Linked DNA regions of Homo sapiens. Changing the gene in region 4 together with the main gene of any one other region gives a genetic interaction. Each region holds a gene or a part of one and is shown on either strand. Other genes may lie near its edges.

The links. A genetic interaction does not mean that the proteins touch.
Region 1: changes in MCM2 (region 4) and MED12 together harm fitness less than expected from each alone (positive genetic interaction), as found in Homo sapiens cells (one large-scale study listed by BioGRID).
Region 2: changes in MCM2 (region 4) and CNOT1 together harm fitness more than expected from each alone (negative genetic interaction), as found in Homo sapiens cells (one large-scale study listed by BioGRID).
Region 3: changes in MCM2 (region 4) and RTF1 together harm fitness less than expected from each alone (positive genetic interaction), as found in Homo sapiens cells (one large-scale study listed by BioGRID).

The regions. Positions count from the first base shown.
Region 1 is NC_000023.11:71,121,596-71,125,095, forward strand, and holds part of MED12 (mediator of RNA polymerase II transcription subunit 12), read left to right. Parts: coding exon 1-221; intron 222-604; coding exon 605-751; intron 752-912; coding exon 913-1,012; intron 1,013-1,142; coding exon 1,143-1,279; intron 1,280-1,499; coding exon 1,500-1,631; intron 1,632-1,998; coding exon 1,999-2,125; intron 2,126-2,563; coding exon 2,564-2,793; intron 2,794-3,168; coding exon 3,169-3,249; intron 3,250-3,380; coding exon 3,381-3,500. UniProt on the Homo sapiens protein: Component of the Mediator complex, a coactivator involved in the regulated transcription of nearly all RNA polymerase II-dependent genes.
Region 2 is NC_000016.10:58,623,327-58,626,826, forward strand, and holds part of CNOT1 (CCR4-NOT transcription complex subunit 1), read right to left. Parts: intron 1-3,500.
Region 3 is NC_000015.10:41,476,095-41,479,594, forward strand, and holds part of RTF1 (RNA polymerase-associated protein RTF1 homolog), read left to right. Parts: intron 1-351; coding exon 352-429; intron 430-1,070; coding exon 1,071-1,192; intron 1,193-1,363; coding exon 1,364-1,421; intron 1,422-2,453; coding exon 2,454-2,531; intron 2,532-3,008; coding exon 3,009-3,104; intron 3,105-3,332; exon of another isoform or gene 3,333-3,397; intron 3,398-3,500. UniProt on the Homo sapiens protein: Component of the PAF1 complex (PAF1C) which has multiple functions during transcription by RNA polymerase II and is implicated in regulation of development and maintenance of embryonic stem cell pluripotency.
Region 4 is NC_000003.12:127,615,411-127,618,910, forward strand, and holds part of MCM2 (DNA replication licensing factor MCM2), read left to right. Parts: intron 1-451; coding exon 452-545; intron 546-1,457; coding exon 1,458-1,708; intron 1,709-1,868; coding exon 1,869-1,995; intron 1,996-2,558; coding exon 2,559-2,671; intron 2,672-3,500. UniProt on the Homo sapiens protein: Acts as a component of the MCM2-7 complex (MCM complex) which is the replicative helicase essential for 'once per cell cycle' DNA replication initiation and elongation in eukaryotic cells.

The DNA of each region.
Region 1 (3,500 bases), on a different chromosome or scaffold from region 4:
CCCGCCGGCTTGCCTACTTCTGTACACGGAGACTGGCCCTGCAGCTGGATGGTGTGAGCAGTCACTCATCTCATGTTATATCTGCTCAGTCAACAAGCACGCTACCCACCACCCCTGCTCCTCAGCCCCCAACTAGCAGCACACCCTCGACTCCCTTTAGTGACCTGCTTATGTGCCCTCAGCACCGGCCCCTGGTTTTTGGCCTCAGCTGTATCCTACAGGTAGGTACTAGGCGGGCCCAAGGAAGCATTGAGAGATAGCCTGAGAAGAATCAGGTGCCCATCCCAGAGAATAGGGGTAATTCCAAATTGGATGTGGGAGTAGGTGCTGAGTACTTGCTTGGAGGTTGTTGTTTCTTGGTAATGGGGTGTTAGTCCCCTTTGGGGGTTTTCACCAGCCTCTCTCTCCCTTCCAAGGCTAAATAGTGGGCCCAAAGCCTTTTAGGAAAGTGAGTGAAGGGAGGGGATCGGGGTGGAGTGATGCCTGTCTTGGGGACCCAGTCAGAATAACTTTGGATCTGGAATCTACGGGTTGGGTCTTAGAATGGGATTCCAGAGGGGTAACCATGGTGAATGAGTTGGACTTAGCTGTTTCTATCTGGTAGACCATCCTCCTGTGCTGTCCTAGTGCCTTGGTTTGGCACTACTCACTGACTGATAGCAGAATTAAGACCGGCTCACCACTTGACCACTTGCCTATTGCCCCGTCCAACCTGCCCATGCCAGAGGGTAACAGTGCCTTCACTCAGCAGGTATGTCTGACCACTAGCCTGGTACTCTCAGATTGGGCTATGAGGCTAAATTACTCTTTCAGAAGTAGTGATTTGGAGTCTAGTACTATTCTTCTAGCCTGGGGCTCTGGCCTTTTATATGCCTTGGTACATCCTTGTAGCCTTCCTTTTTAACATTGCAGGTCCGTGCAAAGTTGCGGGAGATCGAGCAGCAGATCAAGGAGCGGGGACAGGCAGTTGAAGTTCGCTGGTCTTTCGATAAATGCCAGGAAGCTACTGCAGGTATGTGTCAGAGAACAGATAATAGGAAATATGTTTGAGGAAAGGATGGGGATAGTAAGGACATGTAGATCTAAGAGCCAGAATGCACCGGGCCTCTGGTTCAGTCCCCTTTACCACTTTTCCTCCTTAGGCTTCACCATTGGACGGGTACTTCATACTTTGGAAGTGCTGGACAGCCATAGTTTTGAACGCTCTGACTTCAGCAACTCTCTTGACTCCCTTTGTAACCGAATCTTTGGATTGGGACCTAGCAAGGATGGGCATGAGGTAAGCGAAAAGGGGAATAGAAGGAGCAAAAAACATTGCAAGAGCAATAATATGTCTGAGAGGGAAGTCATGGTGAGGCATTGAAAGCAGAGCATATCTGCAGAAATGATCTTACTGGGCCCAGGATGTTTTATGATAGAGCCCAGTCTTTAGGAAATTGGAACTCATTTCTTTGTCCCCACCCCTACCTTACTCCTCCTTCTCTTCCTTTGTTCTCCAGATCTCCTCAGATGATGATGCTGTGGTGTCATTGCTATGTGAATGGGCTGTCAGCTGCAAGCGTTCTGGTCGGCATCGTGCTATGGTGGTAGCCAAGCTCCTGGAGAAGAGACAGGCGGAGATTGAGGCTGAGGTTAGAGGGCAGAGATAAGAGAACAAGATTGGCCAATGGGAAGGAATTTACTGCGGTTGGAGACCGAGAGATGGAGGTGGTGGAGGGACCAGAGTTGAAGGTGTGAGAACAGAGTAAAGAAGCAAAAGAGAACCTAAAGGCAAAGTTACGGACGTGAGGCGAAAGTAGAGAAGAGTGGATTGTAGTAAGAGTTAGAGATAACATCAAGGCTTCAGTTGGGAGGTGGTAAAGAACATGGAGGTCAGCAGGGGAATGAAAGTGAAAAGCATGGGGTAGAGGTCAAGCAGGTGGTAGTTTAAGGCCTACACATTGAGGAGTGAAGAAGCAGGTAAAAGTCAGTTCTACAATTTGTTCTGTCATCTTGCAGCGTTGTGGAGAATCAGAAGCCGCAGATGAGAAGGGTTCCATCGCCTCTGGCTCCCTTTCTGCTCCCAGTGCTCCCATTTTCCAGGATGTCCTCCTGCAGTTTCTGGATACACAGGCTCCCATGCTGAGTACGGACCCCTACCACTCTCTAGTTACCTCTGCCTAGACTCAGTTACCCACCACTGTCATCAGAAAGCATAATTAACAGCCCTCTGGTCTATATTTCTCTCTTGGGCTCTATGCAGAATGACTTTTAGATGTAGTTCTAGTGATCCTCTTTAACTGGTCATCTTACAGTTAAACAGAGTAGAGAAATACAGAGAAGGATAAAAACAAGAGCTTGTGATTGAAGCATTTTCACTGCATAAATCGCAACAAAGATGTTACATTCCTTTCTGAGATGATGTGTGGGACAGCATGTGGGGTAACCAACCACACTTTGTCCCTCAACAATTTCTGGGATTTCTATTTGATCACTCTTATTATTGCCTTAGGTGTGTCCCTCTCTCTTTTGGCCCACCTTTTTGTGTTCTCCTAACTTATGTTTCCTCATTCCCTTCCTCCAGCGGACCCTCGAAGTGAGAGTGAGCGGGTGGAATTCTTTAACTTAGTACTGCTGTTCTGTGAACTGATTCGACATGATGTTTTCTCCCACAACATGTATACTTGCACTCTCATCTCCCGAGGGGACCTTGCCTTTGGAGCCCCTGGTCCCCGGCCTCCCTCTCCCTTTGATGATCCTGCCGATGACCCAGAGCACAAGGAGGCTGAAGGCAGCAGCAGCAGCAAGCTGGAAGTGAGTGGGCTTTTCCTTGCACTAGATCGTTTCTTCTGACATTTCCATCTTCATGGCTCCCAGGGGCCTCTAAGAGCCTCTTTTGCCTGGGGGAGGGGGGTAGTATTTTTCTTAGCACTTGGTGATTGACCAAGCACTCTCACATCAATTGTTTCATTGGTTCCTCCCATCAGCCTTGTGAGGTACTCTTATCCCCATTTTCAAACTGAAGAAAACAGAGGCCTATACTGGTTAAGTGATTGGATGAGGCTTGACTCCAGATCCTGTGCTTTCCCCAATCTGGTCTTCTCTCTCCACTTCCCCAATGAAGTTTTACAGATGGTGGGAGCCACTCCCTAGGGCTAAAGCAACTTCGCTTATGTTCTATGCCCTCAGGATCCAGGGCTCTCAGAATCTATGGACATTGACCCTAGTTCCAGTGTTCTCTTTGAGGACATGGAGAAGCCTGATTTCTCAGTAAGTTCAATCCTGAGCGTGGCAGAATCTGGATCCTTGGATCTTCCCATTATGCCTGCTTTTGGCATGTTTTTTTGCCCCCTCATCCACTTTCCTTCTTCTCATGTTCTGCTTTCTCACCTTTCTCTCAGTTGTTCTCCCCTACTATGCCCTGTGAGGGGAAGGGCAGTCCATCCCCTGAGAAGCCAGATGTCGAGAAGGAGGTGAAGCCCCCACCCAAGGAGAAGATTGAAGGGACCCTTGGGGTTCTT
Region 2 (3,500 bases), on a different chromosome or scaffold from region 4:
TAGAATGGTAAGTTTCTTTTTGTATGCTGAGTTGACTGATAGCTTGGCAACTTCTAGGTAGTTTCTGCATGGGTGCTGGTCACCTGAAAGATCAAGGCAAGATGAGAGGATTAGGACTTTTAGCCCCACCTCCTCCAAACTCCAGGGAGGGAAAAGGTGCTAAGGGTTAAGGTGACCACCAAAGGTCAATGATTTAACCAACTGTGCCTCTGTAATGAAGCCTCCATAAAAGCCCATAAATGACTGGGTTCAGAGAGCTTCCAGATAGCTGAGGCACAGTGTAGCCAGGGGAGGGCATGGAAGCTCCGCGGCCCTTACTTCTCCTACGCACCTCCTCATCCATATCCTTTATAATAAACTCTTGAACCTAAGTGTTGGCCGGGTACAGTGGCTCATGCCTGTCTGTAATCCCAGCACTTTGGGAGGCTGAGGTGGGTCGATCGCTTGAAGTCAAGAATTCGAGACCAGCCTGACCAACATGATGAAACCCCATCTCTACCAAAAATATAAAAAATTAGCCAGGTGTGGTGGCGCATGCCTATAATCCCAGCTACTTGGGAGGCCGAGGCAGAAGAATCGCTTGAACCAGAGCGATAGAGGTTGCAGCAAGCCTAGATCGTGCCACTGCACTCCAGCCTGGGTGACAGAGCCAAGACTCCGGCTCCAAAAAAAAAAAACCCTAAGTATTTCCGAGAGTTCTACATAAGCCACTCTAGCAAGTTAACTGAACAAAAGAAGGGGGTATTAGGAACTCAATTTATAGTCAGTTGGTCAGAAACACAGGTAAAACCACCTGGGACTTGAGATTAGCATTGGAAGTGGGGGACTGTCTATGGGACTTGAGCTTTCAACCTGTGGGATCTGATGCTATCTTCAGGTACACCGTGTCAGAATAATACTGAATTAGAGGATACCCATGTGGTGTCCACTGCTGAATAGCTTGCTTGATGCGCAGGGGAAAACCCCACACATCTGGTGGTGTGAGAATATACTGGAAGAAAGTTTATGTTCTCAGAATCAACAAAAAATTATCCTACATGGTTGCAACGTATTCAACATTTCAGGAATTTCCCTGTAACAACTGTAACACAGTTAAGCAACAGGTATGCTGGAGGTTAGTTAATGCTGTGTTTTCCAGAATTAAAGATATAAATGCATTTCTCAAATATATACACTACATTCCTTTAAATCACTGTGGGTGCGACGGCTTACGCCTATAATCCCAGCACTTTGGGAGGCTGAGATGAGTGGATCACAAGGTCAGGAGTTCGAGACCAGCCTGACCAACATGGTGAACCAGATCTCTACTAAAAAGACAAAAATTACCCAGCCGTGGTGGCACGCGCCTGTAATCCCAGCTACTCGGGAGGCTGAGGGAGGAGAATCACTTGAACCTGGGAGGCGGACGTTGCAGTGAGCCGAGATCACACCACTGCTCTCAAGCCTGGGCAACAGAGCAAGACTCCATCTTAAAAAACAAACAAACAAACGAAAAAACTCAACAAATGGCTTCATATTAAGTCTACACCTCTAATTACTGCCTTCTCAAACTACGCTTTCCAGTGAACAATGCTTTATTTGGTTTGCTACATTCTTGCAAATTTGAGTGAAAAGTACACTTAAAAAAAAAAAGTATCATAGGCCAGTATGGTGGCTCACATCTGTAATCACGGCACTCTGGGAGGTCTTGGTGGACAGATCGCTTGAGCCCAGGAGTTCCAGACCAGCCTGGGAAACACAGTGAAACCTCACCTCTACCAAAAAAATACAAAAATTAGGCCAGGCGCAGTGGCTCACACCTGTAATCCCAGAACTTTGGGAAGCTGAGGCAGGTAGATCACTTGAGGTCAGGAGTTCAAGACCAGATGGCCAACATGGTAAAACCCCATCTCTACTAAAAATACAGGCCTGGGCAGTGGCTCACGCCTGTAATCACAGCACTTTGGGAGGCCGAGGCAGGTGGATCACCTGAGGTCAGGAGTTCGAGACCAGCCTGACTAACGTGGTGAAACCCTGTCTCTACTAAATACAAAAAATTAGCCGGGCATGGCGGCGTGCGCCTGTAATCCCAGCTATTCAGGAGGCTGAGGCAGGAGAATCACTTGAACCCAGGAGCCGGAGGTTGCACTGAGCAGAGATCACACTATTGCACTCCAGCCTGGGCAACAAGAGCAAAACCCTGTTTTAAAAAAACATATATATATAAAATTAGCCAGGCATGATGGCGCGCACCTGTAATCCCAGCTACTTGGGAAGCTGAGGCAGGAGAATCACTTGAACCCGGGAGGCAGAAGTTGCAGCAAGCCAAGATCATACCACTGCACTCCAGCCTGAGGGAGAAGAGCAAAACTCTCTCTCAAAAAAAAAAGAAAAAAAACAATTTTTGACACGTGTGGTTAGCATGCACCTGTAGTCCCAGCTACTCAGGGGCTGAGGTGAGAGACTGACCTGAGACCAGAATATCAAGGCTGCAGTGAGCAGGGATTGTGCCGCTGCACTCCAGCCTAGGCATTGAAGTGAAACCCTGTCTCAAAAAAAAAAAAAAAAAAAACTATTGTATACACTGGGGGGCAGAAGGTGTTGAGCCCCTTTTAACTTTCAAAGATTCATCTTTAAAATTGTGAGCAAACAGAAAAGGAATTGCTAGATTCTTCTATATATAGAGTCACTCAATGGGATGCCATTTTGAAACTTCACAGCAGGAAGTTTTAGTTTGGTCAGAGGGTCATTAAAGAAATGCCTCAGTTAATATATATGACTTGAAAGTCTTTTCTTTTATAAAAGTATATACCAAGTTCAGGCCGGGTGCTATGGCTCACGCCTGTAATCCCAGCACTTCGGGAGACTGAGGCAGGCAGATCACCTGAGGTCAGGAATTCGAGACCAGCCTGGCCAATACGTTGAAACCTCTTCTCTACTAAAAATACAAAAACTAGCTGGCTGTGGTGGCAGGCACCTGTAATCCAGCTACTCAGAAGGCTGAGGCAGAAGAATCGCTTGAACCTGCGAGGCAGGGGTTGCAGTGAGCCAAGATTCCACCATTGCACTCCAGCCTGGGCAACAGAGCGAGACTGCGTCTCAAAAAAAAAAAAAAAAAAAAAAAAAGATATACCAAGTTCATAAAATACAGCATTTCAAAATGGCAGACTACTAGGCTGGGCACGGTCACTCATGCCTGTAATCCCAGCACTTTGGGAGGCCGACGCGGGTGGATCACGAGGTCAAGAGTTCGAGACCAGCCTGACCAACATAGTGAAACCCCGTCTCTACCAAAAATACAAAAATTAGCTGGGTGCAGTGGTGCGCGCCTGTAATCCCAGCTACTTGGGAGGCTGGGGCAGGAGAATCGCTTGAACCCAGGAGGCGGAGGTTGTAGTGAGCTGAGATCGCACCACTGCATTCCAGCCTGGGCAACAGGGTGAGACTCCGTCTCAAAAAAAAAAAGGCAGACTACTATTTTTGTTAATGTGGGACAAAATACTCATAACAAATATTTTGCA
Region 3 (3,500 bases), on a different chromosome or scaffold from region 4:
TGTATTCTGCTAGGCTTGATCCTTCAAGAGTTTTCCTTTTCTAAAACATCTTGGTAAAATTATTTGATCTCTGTTCTCTTGGACAGTGGCTAGCCTTACACTACCAGGCCCTTGGGCTGCTGTTTCTTGGTGCATGTTCCTTCAGCCTGTCCCAGAAGAATCTCCGTGACCCAGGAAGCAGCATAGTATCCCTTGGAATGAACCCGCTCTCTCTCTCTCTGGGGCATGACACTGCTGTAGGAAGAGCAGCCCCTTTGTAACTAGCTGTTTGCATCCAAAATGGGCTCACTTAGCCTGTCTACAAAAATAGCTTAGGAATACCTCACTGCTGGTATCTCCTCTCTGGTACAGATTGTAAAAGAGAAAGAAAGGTTCAGAAAAGCTCCACCCAACTACGCTATGAAGAAGACTCAGCTACTGAAGGAAAAGGTAAGGAGTTGTACTCGAGCCTCTTTCCTCATCCTGTAAGGAGATGTGGAAATCAAACTTGTTCATCCTCTGCCAAGTTAGTGGTGGTAGGATTGGGAGAAAATTCTGGGCTCGATTATAAGCAACACAGTGTGTTCTTGGCACCTGGGCAACGTTCCTTGGCCATTTTCCATTCCCTAAATTCAAACTCATCTTCTGCGTGTGTGCCAGTCTTCTTACTTTCTAGTCACTTCAGTTTCCTTTGTAATAAAATAGACCCTGGGGTGGTATTTAACACTGAGTCTGAACAGACAGATGACACTGTCAAGGCCACCTGTGGCTGGTGATTTTCCATTCTTCACACTGGGTTGGGGTGGGCCTTGTTATGGTGGTTTAGCCACCCTGTGAGGCCTGGGGTTCTACTGCCACCAGGGACCCACAGCCAGGTAGCTGTATGGGAAGGTGTTCCCCACTGTACTGTGCACTACTATAATATAAATTATATCTTGTATTTGTAAAGTACTTCTACAGTATTCTTCCACATCTCCTGTCCTTTGCTCACCACATGAGATATCTTTGCCTGTGCTGGAAGTAAGGGGATACTTGATATGGAGTCAGTTGTATGTAGCCAAGAACGAACTCACACATCTCTCTATGTGTAGGCCATGGCTGAGGACCTGGGGGATCAGGACAAGGCCAAACAAATCCAAGATCAACTGAATGAGCTGGAGGAACGGGCAGAGGCCCTGGACCGCCAGCGGACCAAGAACATATCCGCTATCAGGTGTGTTATGGAGCCTATTTTTGGCCCGCAGACCTTGGCCAAAATTATCAGGCAAGCCTGTGGCCTGTACACTCTGTGCTGCACTGACCCCATAGATATCTGAGTTCAGGGCTCAGTGGTTCCCTCCCTCCCTTGTTTCACAGCCACTGACTCATCCCTCTTACCCCACAGTTACATCAACCAGCGGAACCGGGAGTGGAACATTGTAGAGTCTGAGAAGGCCCTTGTGGTAAGAAAACTTTATCTGAATCACTAAAACAAAGTTAATTAATAAACCATGACATCTTTTCTACATCTTGCCTAAGTTTATTTTTTAATTATTGAAATAACGTAGGCACTTAACGTATACACACTCTCTCTGTATGTCCACGTACATCGATATAATTTATTCATAATGAAAAGCAGCAGTCTTCTGCCCTGTCCTACCTCTTCCCACCCTTAGATTCTACTCCACAGGTATTTGTTTTTTCTCAATTTCTGTTTCTTGGTTGTTTCCCCCATATCTACTCTGGTATTCTTGAAGGGAAAAGGATAATATGCCGGGCGCGGTGTCTCACGCCTGTAATCCCAGCACTTTGGGAGGCCGAGGCGGGTGGATCACCTGGGGTCAGGAGTTTGAAACCAGCCTGGCCAGCATGACAAAACCCTGTCTCTCCTAAAAATACAAAAATGAGCCGGACATGGTGGTGCACGCCTGTAATCCCAGCTACTTGGGAGGCTGAGGCACGAGAATCACTTGAACCTGGGATGTGGAGATTGCAGTGAGCTGTCGTGCCACTGCACTTTAGCCTGGGCAAGAGAGCGAGAATCCATTTAAAAAATAAAAAAAATTAGCCGGGCATGGTGGCTCACGCCTGTAATCCCAGCACTTTGGGAGGCTGAGGTGGGTGGATCACCTGAGGTCAGGAGTTTGAGAGCAGCCTGGCCAACATGGCGAAACCCTGTCTCTACTAAAAATACAAAAATTAGCTGGGTTTGGTGGCTTGCACCTATAGTCCCAGCTGCTGGAGAGGCTGAGGCAGGAGAATCACTTGAACCTGAGAGGCAGCAGATGCAATGAGCTGAGATTGCGTCACTGCACTTCAGCCTAGGCGACAGGGCGAGACTCCATCTCAAAAAAAATTAAAAAAAAAAAAAAAGGAAAAGGATAATAGCTTTTTTTTTTTTCAGTCCCGTGCAAAGACTTATTTGCCTGTGAGCTTATGGTGAATGAGAGGAGGGGCTGGAGGTGCAGTTCTGTGGTGCATGCTTTCTGTTTCAGGCTGAAAGTCACAACATGAAAAACCAACAGATGGATCCCTTTACTCGGCGGCAGTGCAAGCCTACCATCGTTTCTAATGTGAGTGCTGAAAGAGGACATTTTAGTCAGGACCTAGATTCTAGGACACAAAATGAATTCCATTAGGAAATTAATAATGAAGTTAAAAATAATGTTTTCTTAGCTGGGATTTGCTTGTCTGAAGCTCTTGGGTCTGGATACTTCCTTTTTTATCTTGCTATAGGACATATCGGTAGTGAAAACGTGGCATGGATTTATAAAAACCTAGTGACTGATCCTCCTGTATCAGGGTGGGTTTACAGTGCAGCAGACATTAGTAATGTGTCCCTTAGCTAGGGCCTGGCTGGGCTGGGCTTGGCTTTCAAGCTTGTAATTGCCTTTTTTTTTTTTTTTTTTGCTGCTTTGAGGAAAACCCCACTAGCTGCTGATGGGTCGGCTGTGGTGCTTGTGATGTTAGTTTGGTAGGTGGGAAAGAATCTGGCAGTAGGACTCTGTGAGTGTCAAGCAATCTCTAAAACAACTTATTTTCTCTCTCAGTCCAGAGACCCAGCTGTTCAAGCTGCCATCTTGGCCCAGCTGAATGCAAAATACGGTTCTGGAGTGTTACCAGATGCTCCAAAGGAAATGAGCAAGGCAAGTGTGGTACCACCCTGTTGCCTGCTGAGTGAGGCTGCTGGCTGAGATACCGAACAAGTACCTTGTCTAGTTTGGGCTTGATTTTTCCACCTTGAGGAACAGGGAGTCCCTCTTGGAGTCCCTTCTCCATCCCAGTTATTTACAGATATAATCAACAGACAACCTTAATTCCAAACCTGACACCACTACTTGCCTAGGGCCTTGACTATGTCCTTCAGCAGCTGGCTTCCAGCCCTCAGCATCCCCTTTTCTGCTGTGTAAAATGAGGGTACTACTGTATACCCTGCCAGCTTCACAGGAGGAGAGATAACATACAAAGATCAGACATTGTAAAAGTGAAAGCTTGTTGAAAATGGCACATTTAAAAGCAGTTTTCTTGCTGGGCGCAGTGGC
Region 4 (3,500 bases):
GTGCCACATTTATTGCATTGACGAGGCAGGCACTTGCATGAACTGTCGCATTTGTACCCACCCTTCTGTGAGTTGGATGTTGCCATCTCTCTTTTCCATATGAAGAAACTGAGGCTTGAGGTAGGCCAGTGCCATGACAGACCTGGTTCTGGTCTTATTTCTGCTCTTGGTCTGTGATCTTGGGAAAGGCCTTTCTGAAATATGTCAAGATTAGGGGTTCAGATGAAGGTTCTTCTAAACTCCAAAGTTCTGTGACTCTTGGGAAGAGCCAACTAATGAAAAGCTTTAGAGTCGGGCACGGCTTGATACCAGGGCCTGATGCAGTTGCAGCAGCTGTGGAAGTGGGTGTCTTTGAGCTGGGGATGTCGTGGTTCCCTGATGCCAGAGCATGTGGGTGACCTACTCTGTGAGTATCTGTTCCCATTCTTGTCGGTCTCCCTCCCTTTCTCAGATCTTTGCCAGCATTGCTCCTTCCATCTATGGTCATGAAGACATCAAGAGAGGCCTGGCTCTGGCCCTGTTCGGAGGGGAGCCCAAAAACCCAGGTGAGCACCCACCTTTCCTCTGCAGGGGTGTTAGCAGCTTTCTCTTTGGGGAGCCAGCATTCAAAGAAGGACACAGTGTTTTTAAAGCCTGGGTGCTGGGGAGAAAGAATGCATTAAAAGATGGTCTGGCTGGGCGTGACTCATTCTTCAAGGGAGAGGGTGGCCCTGAGTTGGGCATTCTGGGTGTTGGGCTGTTGGTCAGGGAGCCAGTGTCTGCCTGCTTTTGTGATTTAAGCAAATGAGTCTTTGCTTCTCTTCTATGTAAAAAATACTTTGTCTTTTAAAAACCTGTTTTAAGTACAAAAATACTATTGACACATGAGTTTGTATTTATATTACACTTTTATAGAACACTAAAAGTCATGGGTGAGGCTGATTTCCCCATTGACCCCCACTTCTCTTCCTAGTCCCTCCCTTTGTGGCCATTTACAATTACACAGCAACCACAGGGTTTCATGACTACACGTGTTTATTTGTACAAGCGCAGCGTCCCCTGTGTGTGCCCAGTGCTGTGCCTGTGCGCAGTGCATCCCACCGAGCTCTCCCGCTCAGTGCCACACTGCAGCATCTTTTCTTGTTAGTGCATACAGAGCAATTGCCTTCTTTTAAATGACTATCATGCCACCAGATAACGCAGTTTATTTAGCTCTCCCTTTGGAGAACACTTAGATTGTTTCTGATATTTCACATTCGCCAAGGACATCTCGTGCAACCCTCCTCTGCACCCGTGTGTGTTTCCCTGGGAGTGCCCAGAGTGGGACTGCATGGCGTAGGGCATTGTATCCCTTTCTAGAGGGACTGTGCCTTACCATTCCTAACAAGTAGGTTGAGGAATTGGTGGGGGATGCAACTGTGCCCTCCTCCTCTCACTTCCCACTCTCCCCCTCCCCCGCTTCTACTCATCCCCTCCAGGTGGCAAGCACAAGGTACGTGGTGATATCAACGTGCTCTTGTGCGGAGACCCTGGCACAGCGAAGTCGCAGTTTCTCAAGTATATTGAGAAAGTGTCCAGCCGAGCCATCTTCACCACTGGCCAGGGGGCGTCGGCTGTGGGCCTCACGGCGTATGTCCAGCGGCACCCTGTCAGCAGGGAGTGGACCTTGGAGGCTGGGGCCCTGGTTCTGGCTGACCGAGGAGTGTGTCTCATTGATGAATTTGACAAGGTGGGTCCCTGGGTCACGGAGGCTGGTGGAACTCAGGGGGTGTGTGTGGGCTTGGGCCTTAGCGACGGGAATGGTGTTAATGGGGTCCATTGGGACCTCATCGGAGACTTAGTAGTAGGGGCGTGAACCATGCTAAGGGTGGGCCATTTTAATCTTGCAGATGAATGACCAGGACAGAACCAGCATCCATGAGGCCATGGAGCAACAGAGCATCTCCATCTCGAAGGCTGGCATCGTCACCTCCCTGCAGGCTCGCTGCACGGTCATTGCTGCCGCCAACCCCATAGGTGCAGCAGGCACCCTGACTGCTGGGGCTGGGGTGGGACACAGGGAGGTCCCGCCTGCTTGAATTGGGAGCCCACGGGGTCCCCAGGAGCCGATCTGAGGAAGTCATTGTGCAGCAGAGGGTTCCCCTCTTCTGCATATCCTGCCAGAGTGGGGAACAGTGAAAGTGGGACCTGGGACACCTGGGTTTCCTGTTGAGTCATGTTCCTGGAATCACCTTGGATGTTCTCAGAAGGCATGGGAGGAGAGCCCAGTGCCCCTCTGGCCAGGATGGAGTTGGCTGTTGGTCTCAGCAGCGAATGCGTAAAAGAACCCAGGCTCTGTCACCCACTGTGTTCTTGGTTTTTCCTCCTGGGGAAGCAGTTATGCTTTCTGTCTAAATTAGGCTATTTTGGGCCCTGGTTAGGGTAAGCTCTTTGCTGTCTCAGACAGCAGGTGCTAAGTACCCACCTATGTCTTCCTCTTCCACTGCCCTCATCCCCTTCTGCCATCAGAGCAGCCTGGGGTCCCTGAGATGGGAGGATAGGGGAATCCACCCTGATGGAGGTGCTCCCCTGTGTTTCAGGAGGGCGCTACGACCCCTCGCTGACTTTCTCTGAGAACGTGGACCTCACAGAGCCCATCATCTCACGCTTTGACATCCTGTGTGTGGTGAGGGACACCGTGGACCCAGTCCAGGTATAGCTCACATGTGCCCGGTTTCCATGAACTGTGGTTTGGGGACCTCAGGTGAGGCTTGGGGTCATACAGTGTGCCCAACACAGGGGACAGGTGCTGCAGGGGCCATAGGCTGTTTTCTAGTCCTGTTCCCTCGGTCTCTTCTCATGTCCAGAAGTCGCCCTGATTTCTCTTTCCTTCACAGCACCCCCGACCCCCACCCTACATAACCCACAATCCACCAAATCCTGTTGTCCCAACTCCTGAGCCTACCCACCTCCCTCACTTCTGCCTCTGACTTGAGGCACTACCATCATCTGAACTGGCCTCCTGGCACCCATGTAGACTGTCTTCCAGTTGAAGGCATAAATCAGATCAGCCCCGTCCTTAACAACTGCTTGAGGCTTTCTGCTGTCATCAGAATAGAATCCAGGGTCCTCCCCTCCGGCCCGCACCCGCCATCTCTGCAGCTACCTCCTCCTCGCTCCCTTCCCTCACCTGCACCTGCACCTGCCCTTCTCTCTCAAAAGGGCCGAGCCTTGGGGCTTGATTGTGCTCCTTGCTCCTGGCAGACGCTCTCCCACACTGTCACATGACTTGCATCTCATTGTCGTCATCTCAGCTCCCTGTCTTTCAGGGAGGGGCTTTGCCGGGCACCCTTAGCTAGAGGCATCTCCTTGGTCCCTTGATCCTATCACTCTATTTTTCTTCTGAGCATTACTTTCCATAATTAATTTTTAAGACTATTTGTCTCCTGTCCCCTTGTGGAGATGAGCCCTGTGGGGACTCTGTCCCATTGTCTGGTTTGCCACCCACACCCAGAACTGCCTGGCACATGGTCAGTGTAGTC